Linked DNA regions of Homo sapiens: regions 1, 2, 4 and 5 are each reported to be linked to region 3. The links are microRNA targets in miRTarBase. Many come from high-throughput screens and were not tested one by one. Region 3 holds a microRNA gene; each other region holds the end of a gene's coding sequence. Distances are between the middles of the regions.
Evidence for each region. The annotated mature microRNA hsa-miR-30a-5p reads UGUAAACAUCCUCGACUGGAAG and lies in region 3 at 2,832-2,853, shown strand. An mRNA with a match to its seed (bases 2 to 7 or 8) in the 3' UTR can be bound and repressed. Matches are read on the target gene's strand: a 7mer-m8 pairs with bases 2 to 8, a 7mer-A1 pairs with bases 2 to 7 and ends in A, and an 8mer does both.

Region 1 (4,064 bases), 37 Mb from region 3:
TGATTAATGTTTTCTTAATTAGAGTTGTGAACCAAACAAAAGAACATATACCATTAGTTGATAGTGCATAGCTTTATGGACAGTCCAGAATAATACTTATTGGTAAACTGTACATGATTCTGAGCCGGGCGCAGTGGCTCACGCCTGTAATCCCAGCACTTTGGGAGGCTGAGGTGAGCAGATCACTTGAGGTCAGGGATTTGAGACTAGCCTGGCCAACATGGTGAAACCCCGTCTCTAGTAAAAATATAAAAATTAGCTGGGCATGATGGCACACGCCTGTAGTCCCAGCTACTCAGGGGGCTGAGGCACGAAATCACTTGAACCCAGGAGACGGAGGTTGCCATGAGCCAAGATCAGCCACTGCACTCCAGCCTGTGCAACAGAGCAAGACTCCATCTCAAAAAAAAAAAAATTATACATGCTTCTCAACTTTAAAATATGTGTTTTGAACTCCCCCACCTTGTATAAAATATTGGACTAAATTTATATTTTTTATTCTCAGGGTCGCTGGTCATCCTCTGGCACAGAACGAACGTTGTCTTCACATGTTTTTACAAGATGAAATAATAGATAAAAGCTATACTCCATCTAAAATAAGACATGCCTGAAATTTGGCAAGAAGGGGCAAAAACGTGACTATTAATGATTGATAAGCACCAGTGAAGAAGTTCTAACTTTTAGCATGCTGCACAGAAACTGGTATAACATGCCTTCAGTATACTAACACTCATATGCTCAGTTTTGTTTTGTTTTGGCAGTTGACAAGAAGTTAATTTGCTTTAGTAAAAATCCCTCATTCCAGCCTTTCTATATAAATAGCTCTTTCTTGCTGTTTTAATGTGGTGCACACTATAGCCTCACAAACCTGTTATTCCAGTGTAATCTGCAGTGTCGTAACTAAAGTTACTGGCTTGGTCTTATTTGCACAGTTTTTGCGTCTTGTTTGCTTCTTGCATCTGATTAACTAGAATATTTCTCTTTCCCCCTTTTAATTTGTGATGTCACTTGACCCCATTTATGTGTAGGAGCACTACACCATTGGTTTCCAATACTGCACACATAAGATACATACTTGTGTGCAGAAAGTATCTTCCTCCAGGCTTGTAATACCCTTCACATGGAAGATTAATGAGGGAAATCTTTATATTCTGTATAAAAACAAAAGCAAATTTATATACTAAAATCATTTGTCTAAAAATTTAAGTTGTTTTCAAATAAAAATTAAAATGCATTTCTGATATGCACTGATTGTGTTGCCTCCAGCTTTTTTTGCTCTCTATGAGTGACTACTTAAGTCACTTGTTGAGAGGGATTATTTACTAATTATATACTTCTCATTCCTGTAACTCCATTCCCTTTAAACAGTGGTGATATCAAATATACTTCCATCCATTGAATGGGGTATTTTTAACAACAACAAAAGTGATATACTAAAAAATGTATTGCTTAAGGCTTATTGAATCATTTTGAAGCACTTTGTGTATTTGAAAACTGCTTTATAATCTCATTTATTAAAAGGACTTTCAAAGATAAAATACCATTTCTCCTATTTTTCAGAAGTTTTTTCCTAGTCAACTGAGTGACTTGTTTAAACAAACTTAGCAAGGGTGTAATAACTCTTCTTAGTCAGCAGGTTTGTGCTTTCTCTTTAATTTGGTTTGGGATAGTAGCACACTTTATCCTCTTTAAGAGAAGGGCACAGTCTTCTAGCCTGACCTGCAAAAATGATAAGATACCAGAAAACACATGACTTCTTGCTGCCTAACTTGTGTTGTGTTCAGACCTTTCAGCCAGAATGTGGTCTCTAGTTTGTACAACTTGCGGTGGTTTGGGGACCCATTGTGACTTGGAGTTAAATCCCAAAGTAAAGAAATTTTGTCCTCCTACAGCAGATGCGTCTCCTCTGAAGATGGATCAGTCCATTTAAAAGGAAACAAGCTTGGGTCTTGGCCAAACTAGGATGTCCACCAAGCACATAGAAGTCATAGGAAGAAGTCAGAGTTGCCCCATAAGGCCTTTTGTTGCTCAAACAGTATTTCACAGTTCCCTAATACTGGATGTTTCAATTACTGTAAGAAGGTACAAAGCTAAACAACATGTAAATTTTATTTCAGTGAACTAGAGAAGTAAAGTCAGAGGCTGTCAGTTTTGGGTATGCAGAACAGAATAATGGTAGCTCTGCAAAACCAAATAATTCTTTAAAGCAGTGGTTCTCGGCAAGGCACAGTGGCTCTCACCTGTAGTGCCAGCACTTTGGGAGGCCAAGGCAGGGGGATTGCTTGAGGCCCGGAGTTCTGAGACCAACCTGGGTAACATAGTGAGACTATGTCTCTACAAAAAGTTTAAAAATTAGCTGGGCATGGTGGTGTGTGCCTGTAGTCCCAGCTACTTGGGTGGCTAGGTGGAAGTGTATCTTGAGCCCAGGAAGTTGAGGTTGCAGTGAGCCAAGATCATGCCACTTAATTCTAGCCTAGGCAAGAGTGAGAGACCCAGTCTCAAAAGAAAATTTTTTTTTCTGTTAAACATTAAAATAAAGCAGTGGTTCTCAACCAGGGATGATTTTGTCCCCCAGGGGACGTTTGGCAATGTCTGAAGATATTTTTGGTTGTCTCAACTAGGGAATGTTACTGGACTCTAACAGGTGGATGTCAGAGATGCTGCTAAACCTCTTAAAATGAACAAGCCAGCCTCCCACAGCAGAAAAATGTTAGTAGTGTCAAGGTTTCCACTCACCGTGGAGTCTTGATTTTGATCATTTACAGACAAGGAATAGCGTGGTTTAGGATGGCTTGTACTAGCCTGCCCGCTTTTAACCTCTACCACAATTTCCTAAGGGCAGGCATGCTCTTGAAAAGTCAAGGGTTTTAAAGTAGGTGAAAAGTTTATTCCAGGTAACGTGTTTTTGCCTAATGGAGGAAGGTGCTTTTCAGTGTTATCTTGTAGGAAATTGAGACCATGGTTTATAGTGAAACTATGCCTTTAACCCGCTGAAGTAAAAATGCAGGTGCTCTTAATTCTAACTACATAGGAGGGGGTTCCAGAATCCCTTAAGAATCTTCCTAAAAAAAAATTAATTTGGCAGTGAGTTACAAAGCAATAGATGGATAATTCTAAGGAATCTCAGGCTCTGTGTCCACTATTCAAGTATTTAATTGCCTTGTCTCAACTCCTGCCAGTTATAAAGGGTCAATATCAGTGGTAACTTTATAACTTACATCGAGGATTACATGTAAAATTCATAGGACAGTGTCGGAACATATAAAAGCATAATAATAGTTATCAGTTGGCAGTGGTAGTCATAATAGTAGTAGTAGCAAATGGTACCACTCTTACTCATTTGCCATGGCAGTTCCAGAATAGGTTTATCTGGTATTTGGTTTCCTACCCAGAGGTTCTAACATCATGACCCCTGGTAGTGATTATGACTTTGGGGAAGGGGTGTTAGGGGAGGAGGAGCATCTCCTTTTTATACATCCCATGGTTTTTCCACTCAGCCCTCTTTGCTAGGAGGCCATCCTAGATTAAAATTCCGTCCTGTTGCCTCTGCTTGCTTTGCCTTTTTTGGTTACATGAGTGGGGCGAATATGGCCAATGAAAGAATAAGGCTGTGGCCTCTAAGGCCTTTACAGATAAAATGTGTTTGAGGTATGGATGGACAGAGTTTAGCCCACTCCCTCGCATATAGATTAATACTCAGTGGGTGCCAGCTGCTATTACTAACAATATGCCAGTGTTTAGGCTAGGAAAGGAGTTAAAACTGTTTTGGGATAGAGAGAATAAGTTTGTAATAATTCCACTGTGATCTCTGTCACAGAACTTCCCTATGAAGTAGATAATGTTATTTTTACAAATGAGAAGACTGAGGTTTTGAAAGCTTGAGCAGAATTTTCAAGGTTAACCAGGAGAGGATGGTACTGCATTTAAACTGTGAAGACGTTTGATTCTAAAGGCCATGGCTTGGTGTACTTCCTTCTTGTGGACAGGGCCTATGACTTTTTTTTTTTTTTTTTTTTTTTTTTTGAGATGGAGTGTCACTCTGTTCCCCAGGCTGGAGTGCAGTG
Region 2 (4,064 bases), not on the chromosome of region 3:
ACGTCTTTGCCCTCATCCTTCACTGGGTCTTCAAGTGAAATTCCTGAATTAGAGGAGTTACACATTTTTATTAAAGCCTAATCTTATGTAAATATTTGTTTACATAAGATCTTAGCTGACTCTATACATTTCCTTCTGAGTGCTGATTTTCTGTCCAGAAGCCTAGAGCTTTTGATTTAGTTGTTCTTGGGTGAGGTCTGGACATCTGTATGTTCAAAATCTTCACAAATGTTTAGGAACCATTTCTCTAAACATTTAATTAACATAAAGTACTCGTGGAAGATGTTTGCTTGGATAGTCTGTATAGAAGATATTTGGAATATAGATCATTTTAACCTAATATACTTCAACCTTTTTTTTTTTCCCTAGGAACGAATGATCACACACTTTGAAAGGTCCAAAATGGAGTAAGGAATGGGAAGATTTGCAGTTAAAGATGGCTACCATCAGGGAAGAGATCAGCATCTGTGTCAGTCTTCTGTACGGCTCCATGGGATTAAAGGAAGCAATGACATCCTGATCTGTTCCTTGATCTTTGGGCATTGGAGTTGGCGAGAGGTGTCAGAACAAAGAGAACATCTTACTGAAAACAAGTTCATAAGATGAGAAAAATCTACGAGCTTCTTATTTACAACACTGCTGCCCCCTTTCCTCCCAGACTCTGACATGGATGTTCATGCAACTTAAGTGTGTTGTTCCTGAACTTTCTGTAATGTTTCATTTTTTAAATCTGACAAACTAAAAAGTTTAACGTCTTCTAAAAGATTGTCATCAACACCATAATATGTAATCTCCAGGAGCAACTGCCTGTAATTTTTATTTATTTAGGGAGTTACATAGGTGATGGGGGAAATTGTTAACTACCTTTCATTTTCCTGGGAAGTCAAGGTTACATCTTGCAGAGGTTGTTTTGAGAAAAAAGGGCCCTTCTGAGTTAAGGAGCCATAGTTCTATCAATGATCAAAAGAAAAAAAAAAAAAGAGAAACTGTTACAGTATGATTCAGATCATTTAAAAAAGCAAAATCAAGTGCAATTTTGTTTACAAATGGTGTATATTAAAGATTTTTCTATTTCAGATGTACTTTAAAGAGAAATATTAGCTTAACTCTTTTGACATCTGCTATTGTGACACATCCCATTGCTGGCAATGTGGTGCACACTCCGAAACTTTTAACTACTGTTTTGTAAGCCTCCAAGGGTGGCATTGCAGGGTCCTTAGGCAATGTTTTGTTTGCCTTTATGCAGAGAGGTGCTCCAAGTGCTGTGATTGAGCACCGTGCTAGAGGAACTGTAATGCTTCAGAAGTTGTAGCTTATACAAAGGAAACAGGTCCTGCTGGCTTAATTTAAACAGTTATTGCATGAAGTAGCGTGGAGGCCCTGGACTGCTGCTCGTTCTTTAGGATGGACTGTTCTGGTATCTGGTATTGGTTTAGAGACTGTTAATAAGGGACATCACAAGGTGATGGGATTCATTTGAAGCACTCTATTTCTGTTTTAATGGTTTTATCCAATTTTGCCTTCCCAAGATTTTTGTTCTACATAAAAAGTTCATGCCACTTTTTAATATAAAAAAATTTAACAAAATTAATGTATTTTTCTCATTTTTTTCAAACTTTTTCTAAAGACTCTTTCTGTCAAACTCATGAAAAATTTCTTTCTATGGCTTTTATTCTAGATTGTCTTATTTTCTGTTAAAACCAATGACCACATGACCACAATCTTCACTAACTCATACTGCAGTGAAAGTGTTAACCCTTAGGTAGTTTCTCTACAACTCTTTGCTATGGTGATTTTTAAAAAAGTTTCCTAGGAAGTATCTCTGAGGAACAGCAATCTGAAGAACTGACTATATTCTCATGCTAAGTCATTAGCCAAAAGCTGGTGGTATTGTTGCATGCTGCTATTGCATATTAAAACGTAGCAGATGAATAATAGTTGTAATGCAGCAGGATAGTTGGTCAAATTATTTTTTTAGGCTGCTTTGATGTTGACTTGAGACTAGGAAAAAAAAAAGCCCATTGTGTTAAGCGGGAGTGTATAGTTCAAGTTCTATAGCCTGGGCCCTGATAATTCTACTTACAGCTTTCTGTATTACTGGGAATAGATATAGTGTGTCATTTCTTAGGTTCAGAAGAAATTGATAGCTTTGCAGTAATCTGTAAAACAATATAAACCTTAGGGTTTTGGGCCTGAACGAAAAGGTACTAGACCTTCCAGCACAACAGCTGGTAATTCTAAATTTTTAAGAAGGTGATCAGCTTCTATGGTGAAAATCAGCTATAACACAGGATTTGTGTAGCAATTTTCATGTTTTTGACTACTTGAAAGTACTTTTCACTTGATTATCAGAACAGCATTTGGTAAAGATGGGACAAGTATTCCTAATTTACATATGAAGAAACTGATATTGTGTAAAAATAAAATGACCAGGACCAGTTTTTTTGACTTCATATCACAGACTTACCCTTTTTCTTTTACATTTTTGCTTTAAACCCAAATGCTTAATTTTTTGACCTACGATGTTTTCCTAGGGGGAAATGACCAGATATAGATCATTCTTGCAGCCCAAACTTTGTTGTTTTTTAAGTCTTCAAGGGGAATACTAAGGTAACCGCAGACAGTACAGGTCCCAGGTCCTATAGGAGGAAAAGCCATGACACCTTCCTAAAGGAATATTAGGATGTAAGACACAGCTTTGGAAAGTTGAATTGGTAGGAATGTGGTCATCAAATTAAAAGGAGGCTTATTTCACTGACTTCCAAGAGTTAGTGAATCATCTCTTGCCTAAACTCTTGCTACTCAAAATGTGATCCAGGGACCAGCAACATCTGGGAGATTTTTGGTGCTCAACTGAGGGTCTTACTCTGGTCCTACTGAATCAAAAGAGGCATTTTAACAATGTCTCTAGGTGATTTGTATGCACGTTAAATTTGAAAAGCATTGGCCTCAAATGGTGGTTCTCAGGGTAATTTTGCCTCCCAGAGGACATACGGAAAAGAGACATTTTTATACCTCTGTGGGGAAGATAACTGGCATTTGGTGGGTGGAAGTTAGGGATGCTGTTAAACATCTTACATTGTACAGAACATGCCCCCTCCCCCAACAAGAAATTATCCTGTCCTAAATGCCGGTAGTGCTATCGCTGAACAACCCTAACCTAAAATGGTGGTTCTCAAGCTTTTAAGTGCATGGACTCACCTTGGGGTTTATTAAAACATAGGTTGCTGTTCCCTTCGAGTTTCAGATTCAGTAGAACTGGAATGGGCCTGAAACTTTGCATTTCTAACAAGTTCACAGGTGCTGCTGCTACTGCTGTTGTTGCTGGTCTAGAACCACTTTCAGAACCACTGGCCTAGAACAACCATGAAAGCATTAAGGTAAGGTGCTTGTACTAATTGGGATATAATGGTAATACTAAAGCTACCACTTACTGAGAGCTTAGTGGGTGTCAGGTGTTGCTAAGCGCTCACGACACTAGGTCACAGGTATTTACAAAAATTTTGCAGATTAGGAAAGTATGGCATCGAAATATTAAATTTTCTAAATCACAGCTAATTTCCTAATTGGTAGATCTCCGTCTGAGGTCGACGCCAAAGGCCGAGTTTTTAACCATCACGCCCACTGCCTAAAGCAGTTCTAAGATTAAGAGTTTGTTCCTTCTATGGTAAGCCCATGGCTACTCGGGATGGAGTAGCTATGGGTCCAGAGTGACGATGGCAACTCAGCAACAAAACAATTCATTTAGAGTGCACCGGGAGGAAGGGGCGGGACTTCGGCTGCGGAAGAGGCGGGCCTAACTAGCAGGAAGTCCGGGGTTGACGATGGCTGTGTTGTTGAAGGGCCTGTAGCCGGGGGGTTCCTGGCCGGATCCCGGTCTACCCTTAGCCCAGACTCGTTCCGGACCCCAGCCCGGCCCGGAACACTCTGGGCGAGACGGCGGTGGCAACTCTCCCCTTGCCGCCATGCACGACGCTTTCGAGCCAGTGCCGATCCTAGAAAAGCTGCCTCTGCAAATCGACTGTCTGGCTGCCTGGGGTGAGCCGAGGGGCCGCGGGGCCGAG
Region 3 (4,067 bases):
TAGGTGTGTTTTACCAAAGGAACAAGACAGAAGATGAATGCCAAAACTATTAATGCAGCTACCCTGGACACTAAGCCCCCAAAGAGATGGAGGATTGGAGGATGTAGAGCCTGGGCACTGGGTCCAGTGCTGACATGGAACATGTTCATTCTTAGAGTTTCACTGCAAACACTCCAAGGATAGAGAGCGAGAAGGTTATGTGGACATGAGAGGAGAAGGGTGGAAGAGGATTGAATGGTTCAGGGTAGCTAAAAAAAATTTTTACACTTTATCTCGGGCTGCTTCTAAACCCTCCACCAGAAAGAATTAATCCTGCAAGCACTTAAAACAAAACTGATGTGAGGAAGATAATAAAACCTGTCCAGGGTACAGACATCCAGATTTGCAATTTAGGGTGGGAAGACTTTAGAGACCTTGTCTAACAGGGCTAAAGAGTATCCTTATGGTTTTAAAGTAGGTACATTGTTTTTTGTAAGCATTTCTAGGGTTATATAAGACAAATCAGAGTCTGATGTATTGAACACAATTGGATCTTATTCTGCCATATTTGTTTTTAATTCACGATTTTTAAATGGATTTACTGGTCATATTTCTCAGGTCATGGCAAGATTTTTTAGTCTTAAACTTATTTAGCTCAGTCCTTCTAGATCAATGGTTCTCTGCCCTGAAGGTGTAGCAAAATTGTTTGATAGCTTTTGCAAAATTTACATACCCAGCAGCCTCCCCATCAGCTGAATAAGAATTGCAATGTGGATGTGGCAGAGGCAATCAGGTATGTGGGGTTAGAAGAAGCTGTCCTGGTCATTCTGTTGCCACCCTCTCACTTGGAGAATTGCTGATCCAATGAATTCCTTAACATAACTTTGAAAACACAGCGTTTTGCTCAGAACTTCATGAATAAACATCAAATTTTCACTAAACAAAATAATTAAAGACCATAAGATCTTAGTTATAATACTTCATAAATGGAAAAGCACTTTATTGCCTGTATGTATGTGGGCTCCTCTTTTAGCAAGATATGAGCTAGGTGAAGTCTATGTGAAAGCTAAAGCAGATTTATTCCAGTCAGATGCCAGACAATTTTACCAGTTTAACTGAGACTCATTATTACTTAAACTACATGCTTGTTTTTTTGGTTACTGAGTAGTATAGGTCCCACTTGGATCAGCAATTCTCAAAGTGAGAGGGTGGCAATAGAATTATTTAAGTAATTATTTGTTATTTGAGGTTGTTTGCTTAGTATTTACTTGTCACTGTTTTACATGTTATTTAATAATTTACAGTTATTTAAAAGTGGTAAGATTCCAAGGCAAGTAGGGGACCTGTCACTTTGAGAAAAATTTATGGTGGTAAAAATATTTTCTTTTTGTAAAGAGTCACTGATATACAATGTCCCCCCAGGGTGTAAGCCTTGGTATTTATCTATTTTAATTAAAGAGTACTCTGCCTGTCTAGTCGTGGCTAACTTAAAAGAAGTGGGTATCTTGGTGAGAAGTTCACAAGGTTGGTAGCCATAGCTGAGTTTGGTGGATTGACTCAAGCTCTAGTCAGCAGTGGTATATGAATGCCAAGTACTAAGAATTTCTGGAATGTAGAATTGCACAGCACTGATAAAGTTTGCTTTGTTCCCCTGTGTGACTTGACCCATTGAGAAAACTGGTTCCCTAGGAAGTTTTAATAGTTCAAAGTCCTTAGTTAATAAAGAAAAAGGCCACAACATAATTCAGCTTGTTTTCACCTGCTGACTCAAAGATTAACTTTTTTAACCTTAATGGGATAGAGTTACCCTTTGCTTTGAGAAAGTAATTTATGGAGTTCTTCATATTTGTTAGTTTCAGTAAACATGATGCTTTTTGTGTGGATTTTATTTTTGTTTCGGGTTTGAGATCACAAACTACTAAGACTTACACAATTTAAGAACCTTACGGTAACTTCATCTAAAAACAAATCTCAGGGAAAGGCACACCCACTTTTCTGTATCAACTTAATCTTTCACTAGATTCAGAATGGTTTTGAATTACTTCAGGAAAGTAGTGACTGATAGAGCTTAACCTTCAGTTTTCCTCATTTATTTTCATAAGAGAATGGGAGTGGAATTCAAAACATTCAAATTTGGAGTTAATGTGCGTCACTGTTGTGAGTGATAGGTTCTGTGTTTTTCCAGTGGGAAACTTTGATCCACATACTGATATATGCCTGTGTTATACCTCGTTATTCTTTTCTGTTTTTCTCCTGATTGTTGCTTACTCTTTCAAAAATCAGCTGACTGTACAAGTCCTCTCTGGGAGCAGACTTTAGAGCAAAAGTGATCTATAAAAGCAGCATGTAAGTCTTTTTTTTTTTTGTCAGAGTTTATAACTTTCCAAGTAGACCTTTTATATTTTCACGGTAGTCTAAGTTCACTCAACTGCAGTATTTGATGTTAAATGTACGCTTTACGCTGTTAAGATAATTTAGTTTCTGTGTTTGGTCACTTTTGCTTAAAGGATTGTAATTACATAATGCATGTTGAAATCATATTAAGTAACCTGGCCACTTGCCTATTTACTTCTTGTGGCTAACAATAATGAATGAAACCATTTATATATGTTGTTTTAGTATATCACAAAATTTTATAGAAACTAGAAGCTCGGTGATGAATAATAGACATCCATGAGCCTTCTTATTTGTTTTGAATTTGAGACATTTTCTAGAATATTGCTGTTTGAATGAGGCTTCAGTACTTTACAGAATCGTTGCCTGCACATCTTGGAAACACTTGCTGGGATTACTTCTTCAGGTTAACCCAACAGAAGGCTAAAGAAGGTATATTGCTGTTGACAGTGAGCGACTGTAAACATCCTCGACTGGAAGCTGTGAAGCCACAGATGGGCTTTCAGTCGGATGTTTGCAGCTGCCTACTGCCTCGGACTTCAAGGGGCTACTTTAGGAGCAATTATCTTGTTTACTAAAACTGAATACCTTGCTATCTCTTTGATACATTTTTACAAAGCTGAATTAAAATGGTATAAATTAAATCACTTTAAAACCATGTCTGTACATTTTTAGAGGGCTTCAGCAGGGCATTGAGGAGGTGCTCTGTGTATGCATAGAATTTGCAATATCAAAAAGAAAGTATTCGTAAGAGAAATGAGGAAATGTGTTACAGTATTTTTATTTTTTTTAAAAGCGTAGTAGGGCAATATTTCCCAGAAAAATCTATGAAGTGATTTGTTTTGTCCTGCCCTTTCTGCAGTTTCAAAATAGGTGTTTTTTAGACCCATTCACAAAAAAAAAATCCATTAATGAAACCACAATTATTTGGGGGAAAAAAGTAAGATGAAGGGTTAGTTATTTTCACATTACTTGGATTAAACCCCTTTTATTTCCTTATAGGCTTAGTGTTTAAGTAATAAAGTAGCAGCTCTCAGCTTAATAAAGTGTCTAAAACAAACAAATACTGATTCAACTAACTCTATTATTTGAAAAACCTATTCTTGTTTCAGATGATTAGAATAGTATTTTAGGAATTTGTGGATACTGTTTCCATTTGGTTGAACTTTTAACTTAGCTTTATGCAATAACTCATATCTCTTAAAAATAATAAATACATCAAATTCTATCCTAAATATATGAAGACAATTTTAAGATTCAGAATCCTGTAGAAGATTTCTGTGATGGACATAATTTCTAATTTTCCTTTTTTGTAAATGCGTATTTTTCTTATGGCGGATATTTTTAATATTATACACTTAAATAGAAATATTTAAGTGTATAAGAGAAATATTTAAGTGTATAATAGAAATATTAAGGATACACTTATATAGAAACTAGACACTTTAAAAAGATATGAAAGTGATATCTTTTGTCCTCTAAAACACAGTATTTTATAAATATATAGTGTTTCCATTAATGTAAAAGAGTTTCTTTTCCCTGTTTAATACCCATTGATGATGATGATAAAGAAGTGATACTAAAACAGTATGATCATACCACTATTTAAAATAGTAGCATTTCTTCTAATACCTGGGATGGAGAGAAATATGTGTTAGAAATGTCTTTAAGTTTCCCTCATACATAAAGCTATC
Region 4 (4,064 bases), not on the chromosome of region 3:
AAAAAGATACACAGATGGCAAATAAGCATATGAAAAGATGCTCAGCCTCATTAGACATTAGGGAAATGCAAACTAAAACCATAATGAGATACAACTATGTACCTATTAAAATGGCTAAAATTAAAAACTGATTAGCTAGTGTTGGCAAATATGGGAGGAACTGGAATTCTTGCACAGGGCTGGTGGAAATGGTCCCGCCACTCTGGAAAATAGAATGGTAGTTTCTTAAAAATTTAGTATACATCCACCATGACTGCCATTCTACTAGATGTTTATCCAAGAGAAATGAAAGTACCTATCCATACAAAGACATGTACACAAATGTTGGAAGAAGCTTTATTTGTAATAGCCAAAACCTGGAAAGACCTCAAACACACGTCAAAAGCTGAGTGGGTGAACACACTGTGGCTTATCTATAGAATGGAATATTACGCAGCAGCAAAAAGGAATGAACTATTGATGGACACCCCAACATAGATGGACATCAAAACTGATGAGTGAAAGAGGCAAGACAAAAAAAGTACATGTTGTATTAATGCACTCATTTATGATTTACAAAATTTTTTTTTTAAACAAGGTCTCACTTGTTTAAAAAAAGTGAGTGCAATCTTGGGTAACTGCAGCTTCGATTTCTCAGGCTCGGGTGATTCTTCCATCTCAGACTCCTGAGTAGCTCAGACTGCAGGTGTGCGCCACCATGCCCACTCATTTTTAAAATTTTTTTGTAGAGACGGGGTTTCCCAATGCTGTCCAGGCTGGTCTTGAATTCCTGGCCTCAAGAGATCTGCCCGCCTTGGCCTCCCAAAGTGCTGGGATTACAGGCATGGGCCACCAACACGCCCGGCTCATTTTAAAAATTTTTGGTAGAGATGGGGTCTCCCTCTGTTCCCCAGGCTGGTCTCGAACTCCTGGGCTCAAGTGATCCTCTCCACTCAGCATCCCAAAGTGCTGGATTTTACAGGCATGAACCACCACACCCGGCCTATCAACATTTCAAAGAATTAAGTGGAGAGGGACGTAATGCCTCTTGGGTGTCTGTGAACCCTTGTAGGCTGGGTTTCCGTCTTTCTCTGAACACACGCACCTGTGGACGTGCCAGGTCCCTGGGAGCTCCCTTTACAGATGTGTAGAGACGGAGCGGCAGCGCTGATGTCTCTTCCCATGCTGTGGCCCCAGCATGCAGGGCGAGGGACGGCCCAGGGGTTGGTGCACTTGCGTCCGAGGGGTCGAGGGGCCCCTCACACGTGTGTCCTCTCGGGCAAGCTCCCTGCCATTCATTTCTGGGTCTTGTGACAGAGACAGACGACGGAGCCTCGTGCTGGATGGGAGCTGGATGGGAACTGCTTGGTGCACAGGTGGGGGTCCTCCCAGTCCGCAGCCTCAGAATCACCTGCAGGGCTGACTGCGGCCCACCTGTCTCTGCCTCAGTAGGTCTGGCCTGAGGCCCTGCAATGTGCCTTTCTAACAAGCTTCCAGGTGAGGCTGCTGCCACTGGCTCCATCGCCACCAAGGACCACCGACCCAGGGGCTCTTGAGGGCTCTTCAAGGATGTGGCAGAAGCCACAGAGGTCAAAGGGCACACAAGGAAGAGGTGGAAGACCACCCCTGAGGGCCCCCGAAATCCCTGTGGCCACGAGTTACAGAAGCTGGCGCAGGGAACAGCCATGACGGTGCAACTCTGAAGGGGACCAGAGGGTGGCGAGGGTGTCTAGGGCAGGGGATGTGAGTCCATGGGGCAGGCTCAGCTATACATGCTGACCTCCCAATCCGGACACTCCAGCCATCCCCAAGGCTGAACTCCCCCAACCCTGACACCCCCCAGGGGTGACCTCCCCTAACCCAGACACCCCCCAAGAGTGACCTCCTCCCACCCTGACTCCCCCCAAGAGTGACCTCCCCCAACTCAGACACCCCCCAAGGCTGACCTCCCCCAACCCAGACACCCCCCAAGGCTGACCTCCCCCAACCCAGACACCCCCCAAGGCTGACCTCCCCCAACCCAGACACCACAAGGCTGACCTCCCCCAAACCAGATACCCCCCAAGGCTGACCTCACCCAACCCTGACACCCTCCGAGGTTCACCTCCCTCAACCCAGACACCCCCCAAGGCTGACCTCTCCACCCCGGCGTCCCCCCCAGGCTGACCTCCCACAACCTGGACACCCCAGCCACCCCCAAGGCTGACCTCCCCCAAGGCTGACCTCCCCCACCCAGACAATCCCAAAGGTGACCTTCCCCCACCCAGACAAAACACCCTCCATCAAGGTTGACGTCCCCCAACTCTGAAACCAACCCCCATCCAGATTGACCTCTCTGCACCTGGACACCCCACCTGCCAACCAGGCTGACCTCCCCCTACCCAGACACCCCCAAGGCTGGCCTGCCCTCACCCTGATGCCCCCCAAGGCTGACCTCACCCGACCCTGACACCCCCCAAGGCTGACCTCCCCAACCATGACACCCCTCCCAACGCTGGCCTGCCCTCACCCTGATGATGCCCCCCAAGGCTGACCTCCCCCAACCCTGACACCCCCCCAAGGCTGGCCTGCCCTCACCCTGATGCCCCAGCCCCTCTCAAGGTGAGTCCTATGGGGCCCTCCTTACCAGGGGTGTTCCCCGAACGTGTTGGGAGCTCCTGCCCCCTGGTGTCCAGAGCGGGCACTACGACACCCCACAGAGGAACTCTGGAATTCTAGAGGCTGGGATCCCTGCCTGACATGTCGGTTAGTTACCAACTCACAAAGTCAGGCATACACAATCATTAAAACAAACATTTTTAATTAAATTTTCAAACATGAAAGTATAAACGTTAATATTTGTTGAAAAATATATACGGCATTTCCCCCGTGTGAACACAATGGCTTCCGGTAACACTACCCACTTACAATGAGATCTTTTAGGCACTTGGGTGTAGAATGTGCGAGAGGGAAATGCAACTTTACTTTCCTGCTACCTATAGGGGCAACCACAATTAGATCTCATGAAATATTGTTTTCAACACTGTTAGCATTAACACCGACTTAAAACATACGGTGACCGGACATATAACCTTTAAAGTCCCAGTATATTTAAAACAGGAGAAATCTGATAAGTTGTTAGGATTCTAAATTCCTTTTAGTCTGTTCACTGAGATATTAAATTTCAGTAGACAGAACCCAAAAAGAGATTTCATTTCTTTCTAATCACTTTGGCTTCTTTCTTTTTTGTTAAGTAGGTAAAAACCTTCTTGGTGGGCACCTAAGCAGGATGCAGCCAATAGTTCATGAACCAGCTGCGCACGTGAGGCTTAAAATCTAAGATGCTGCTGAAGTGGCTGCGGGAGGAGCGGCTGCGACTTACTTTTAATTTCAAATCAGCTGCAGATGTTTGGGAGCCCTCTCGATGAACAGAACAAATCACATAACATGCAGAATCCACTCAGAGGCTGTTATTCCAGGGAAAGAGTGGGCAGGTGTCCTGAGGAGTACATTCTTGCTGTCACAGTCTCACTGCTGGCACAGAGGTGCCTTGTTTATGAGATTTAAAGGCCACAAACTCTGGCTCAGGTGGGGACAAGGGTGTGCCGTGGCTGAAACCAGCGTGGTCACTGTGTGGCTGGCACGGCCTGCACATGCTGCAGGAGCTGCTCGCAGTAGGTGGCCGAGCGGTGCTTGTGGATGACGGCCTCCGTCTCCCTCACCAGGAGATCTGGGAACAGCCCGCTGCCCTCTTTGAGGACCTCTGTAAAACAGAAAAACACCTTGAACATGCCAGAAACAAACATGAAACCAATCTTACCTCTCGTGCAAATTGGCTTTGTAGTGAAGTTCAAGCATCTGTAAAAGCATCTGCAAATAACCTGACGCTGCTGGGTGGACATACAGTAGTCACAATGCGGATACGAGTGATCCGACTCACAATGTGGGGACGAATGACCTGACGCTGCTGGATGGGGACACAGTAGTCACAATGTGGATACGAGTGACCCGACTCACAATCTGGGGACGAATGACCTGACGCTGCTGGATGGGGACCCAGTAGTCACAATGTGGATACGAATGACCTGATCCTGCTGGATGGGTGT
Region 5 (4,064 bases), not on the chromosome of region 3:
ATTCCATATGAATCCCTATGGCTCTGTTATACCAAAAGAATATGAAATACCAAGAAATGGCAGTAAAGAAAGGAAGAAAATTTTTTCTTTTCAAATTCACTGACTTTCTCACTGAAAAGACCTTTCTTTCAGTTCCCTGCTTTTGCTGTGTCTTTCCTTGTTGCTCTTCCAAGCCTTTCATTGTTTAATGACGACTAATTCAATGGTAGGCAGAGAGCAAGGTATTAGAAAGTAAAAACTTCCTTTCCTAAGAAACCATTAGGGGGCTGTGGTTTGCCAGGGCAGGAGGTGGAAGGGAGCCCCATTTACAGTGGTAACTTCCTTTCCCTTTCCATCCTGGCAGGCTTCAGAGAACTTTACCAGCTGGTCGGTCTTTCGTTGCCATGGATACCAAGGATATCCCTCAGATTTTACAACAGATCTTCACCTCCACCATGTTGTCGAGTGTCTAAGAAGTGCCCTTCATCACCCTGATGACACCAGGATTTGAAATAAGACAGGAATAAAGAGTATTCTGAAAAAAAGAAGATATGGATGAAGTGAACCCATGCAGTGACTGGATGATTCCGGCATTCCTGGGTCTTCCTACACTTGCTCCGTAATGAGAATTCAGAGAAGCAGCCAGAAGGAGACTTAAACATGGAAAGATACTCCACTGATGAGTTTAGAAGTGATTAGGGCAAGCTAGTTGACCTGCACTTTATCAAAGGTTGGGGTTAAAGGAAGGTGGTTTTGAGAACTATGTGTTTGGTCTATTTCCAAAAACCTGAGGGGGAGAAAATACTTTGCTTTTGCCTTAACACATCATCTGGTCACGTTAGAAAAGTGACCCCATCAAACTGAGCCTTTGATGTCACATTCTGACACAAGATGCAAGTCTGTGCAAAACCCACCAAAATGCTCCTATCCAACAATTATTTTTATTTTCTCCCTGCTCTGTATTGACCAGAAAACAATGATTTTATAATATTTAACCCACCAAAAAGTCCCTCCAACAGCAATATCTTATGAAAGTCTGGCTGTTCTCAATAATTTCATTTTCTTGGCCAAAGCCAAAAGGAATCAAAAAATCCTTGGAGTGCTTGCCTTTCCACGTGACTTTTAAAAGGCTCTTAAAGAGCAAATGTCCTCTTCTCCTTGCTGCTAGAGTGGGAGGAGAAAGATGTCTTGCCTTAAAAGTTTACTGTTTCTTCTGTTCTTCTAGCATCTCTCAAAAAATTCACAGTACTCCATTTTGGGGTCCAAACTGTAATGCTCAAAATAATAAATGCTTACACGAAAATTATTTATTGAGAATATTCATATAAAAATTACCTAAAGCAAAGTAAAAAAAGTAAAATCAAGGTGGTATATTTGAAGTGAATGGTGATTGGAAATTTTTAGCTGTAACAAAAAGAAAGAAAACAACTTTTTTTAAAGCCTCATTCTCTTTTCTTTCAAAATGTACCTTATTCCCACACACTCTTGGGCTGACCTTTATTTTATCAATAAGCTCAATATTACTTTGTTTAAAATAAGATGCTTCAGCAAAAGTCATTCTCTCTTTAACCATATAATTTAAAAACTCCTCTTCACGATTGATAGCAAAATCAGAAACGTTAGGGCACCAGTGAGTTGAAAAAACTGGTCTTAAGTTGGAAAAACTATTATTAATAATATTATCCTATCCATCCATATCTATTGAAATTGTACAGGTCCATAATTTCATTTTAATTAATTATAGGAAAGAAGAAAAGATAATACCCATTTGTTCTATCACCCCTCTCCCTATCATTAACTATCAAATAAATAAATAAAAGCAATCTGATTTCCAACGTGGTACTACCTGGTGAGTTTGCATGGCTTTCTTGTTCCTCTAGTGAGACACCTGCTCCATGTATTGAACCATTCAATGATGCAAACAATTTCAATCCAACATGTATCTTTAAAAATGTAATTGCATTCCAACGGTCGCCACAACAGCAGCTAGCATTTACTGATGATTTACTGTGAACCAGGTATATGCTAAGTGATTGCATACATTATTTCATTCATCCTTACAACAATGCATGTAACAGGGGTATTTTTTACCTTATTTTGCAGATGATAAAGAAAGTGAGGCTCAGAGAATTTAAGTCACTTTCCCAAGATTCCTGTTACTAGACCTTTCACTAACTATTCATGGTACCATTAACATCCTCATTTTACAAGTAAAGAAACTGAGGCTTAGAGAAGTTCAAGAAAATAGGCCACACTCACAGCCAGGCAGGGGCAAAGCTGGGCCTCCAGCCTCCAGGCCCCTTAATGCCTTTGCGTCCCTCGCAGTCCCACGCCCCTTGCTGCATCTCACAAATGTACATGTCACACTCCTGCTGCCTTTTTCTCTTCCTTCCAGTGTGACTTCTCTTCTTGTACCCTGTCCACATTCACAGGGCTCTCTTCCTCTCCCTTTCCTCAGAAAGTCTATCTATCTGCCCATATTCGAGCACTCAGAGGTGTGGGGACCGAGGACATGGGACACTGTCGGGGGAACACTTCTAACTGCTGCTTCCTTGCTAGGCACAGCAGCAATCTGAGGAAGTGCCCTTCCAAGTGGCAGCTTAACCCCAAGGGATGCCCCTTAGCTAGCGGGTCACTGCCCCTGAAAGCCTTTGGAAGTGGAATCCAAGGGAGATTAAAGGAACAGCCAACCTTTAGCAAATCCTCCCCATGCGTAACTACCTGAGGAGGCAGAAGCCATTTTTTTTGACATGGAAAGAATGTTCTCAAGTAATTTAATTTACCTTTCTCGACCAGCCAGACATCCTCTGCAATTGCTATTTTTAAAAAAGCACAGTACTCCTGGCTTTTCTGATTTGTGAAGGGGAAGGATGATGGGGAAAGGGAATTGAGACTGAGAAGACGAAGAGCTTATTTTCACTTCTTGCAATACCTAAGAAGTATGTGCATTTATTATTAAATGTACTTAATTATAGACCACTCCAAGCTGTTCCCAGGCCCTTCTTAGGGCCAAGACATTATAATAAATGCATTGTGTGCCTCGGGGGGTTCCACTGAAAGGCATCTAACCCCTGTCTCCTTAGTAAGCACATGTAATGCTGAGAAGGTTCATTGTTACCCATGAGCAGCCAGGAGGAATGAATGCCGTGAATAGCTGCAGTATATGATGCATATTCCCCCTAGAATCCTCTGTGTGCCCGACAAAATGACCTCATCACAGATGGGGAGGCTCAGCACAGCCATAAGAAGTGGATCAGAGGGGGAGTACTTGAAGGGAACCCATCAGATGTTTGGAATGAATCACTTAATTCTTTATACTACACTCTTTCCTGTGAACTGTCAGAGGAGAAGAAATCCATCAATGCCAGCAAGATTTTCTCTAAACAAACTCCTGGGCTTTGAAAGCCGTTTGGAAGTGGTTTTCAGTAGACAGCATTGTCATTGTTCCTGAAAGACCAACCTTGGAGGCTTCCAGCCTCCCTCCACCTGGCTCCTTCTTGTGCCTGTCAGATCAGGCAAAATTAAGTTTCTAAGTGAATAAAGCTGGGAGAAACAGACAAGGGGAACAACAGGAATAGTGGCTTATTTGCTGCATTTCGATTTGTTTCCAATGACCACAATTGTAAGATACTCCACAAATTCTAAGCCAGCCTCTCCTGCCTGGACAACTTGTTTCTGGAATTGCATCTAAGGAATAATCAAATGTCGACTTATATTTAATACATCGTACATAGCTTTTTAATCTTATTAAGAAACAAAATGTCCACTTTTATCATTTTTTTCCAACCAGTAACATAAATGGCTTTGAAAAATACTTAAGTCCAATTTCTGGTCAGGATTATATCATAAGGTTCTTTTTCCTTTTTCTTTTTTTTTTTTTTTTTTTGAGATAGGGCCTTGCTCTGTCACTCAGGCTGGAATGCAGTGGCACAATCATAGCTCACTGAAGCCTCAACCTCGTGGGGTCAAGAGATCTTCCTGCCTTAACCTCCTGAGTAGGTGGAACTACTGGTTCATGCCACCATGCCCAGCTAATTTTTTTTTTTTTTTTTTTTGGTAGGGACGGGGTTTCACCATGTTGCTGA

Region 1: the mRNA of SNX3 is a reported target of hsa-miR-30a-5p. The part of its 3' UTR that is shown has no 7-base or 8-base seed match.
Region 2: miRTarBase lists TMEM87A as a target of hsa-miR-30a-5p. Seed matches in the 3' UTR shown: 8mer at 1,038-1,045.
Region 4: miRTarBase lists DNAAF5 as a target of hsa-miR-30a-5p. The part of its 3' UTR that is shown has no 7-base or 8-base seed match.
Region 5: the mRNA of VWA8 is a reported target of hsa-miR-30a-5p. The part of its 3' UTR that is shown has no 7-base or 8-base seed match.

Annotation. Positions count from the first base shown.
Region 1 is chr6:108,208,696-108,212,759 of GRCh38, reverse strand. It overlaps SNX3 (sorting nexin 3), which reads left to right. Exons shown (of 4, transcript NM_003795.6): 4 at 506-1,538. The coding sequence ends at 611. Among named protein-coding and RNA genes, the nearest start is that of NR2E1, 45 kb to the right of the region's middle.
Region 2 is chr15:42,208,055-42,212,118 of GRCh38, reverse strand. TMEM87A (transmembrane protein 87A) reads left to right here. Exons shown (of 20, transcript NM_015497.5): 20 at 370-1,672. The coding sequence ends at 411. VPS39 (VPS39 subunit of HOPS complex) reads left to right here and starts at 3,815. Exons shown (of 25, transcript NM_015289.5): 1 at 3,815-4,038. The coding sequence starts at 3,966. It overlaps VPS39-DT (VPS39 divergent transcript), which reads right to left and starts at 3,718. Exons shown (of 3, transcript XR_932181.3): 1 at 3,435-3,718; 2 at 3,202-3,355.
Region 3 is chr6:71,402,381-71,406,447 of GRCh38, reverse strand. MIR30A (microRNA 30a) reads left to right here and starts at 2,827; the gene lies at 2,827-2,897. RefSeq lists an enhancer at 3,831-4,067.
Region 4 is chr7:785,174-789,237 of GRCh38, reverse strand. It overlaps DNAAF5 (dynein axonemal assembly factor 5), which reads right to left. Exons shown (of 13, transcript NM_017802.4): 13 at 2,763-3,721. The coding sequence ends at 3,585. Among named protein-coding and RNA genes, the nearest start is that of SUN1, 45 kb to the left of the region's middle.
Region 5 is chr13:41,564,585-41,568,648 of GRCh38, reverse strand. It overlaps VWA8 (von Willebrand factor A domain containing 8), which reads left to right. Exons shown (of 45, transcript NM_015058.2): 45 at 344-1,814. The coding sequence ends at 452. It overlaps MIR5006 (microRNA 5006), which reads left to right and starts at 254; the gene lies at 254-363.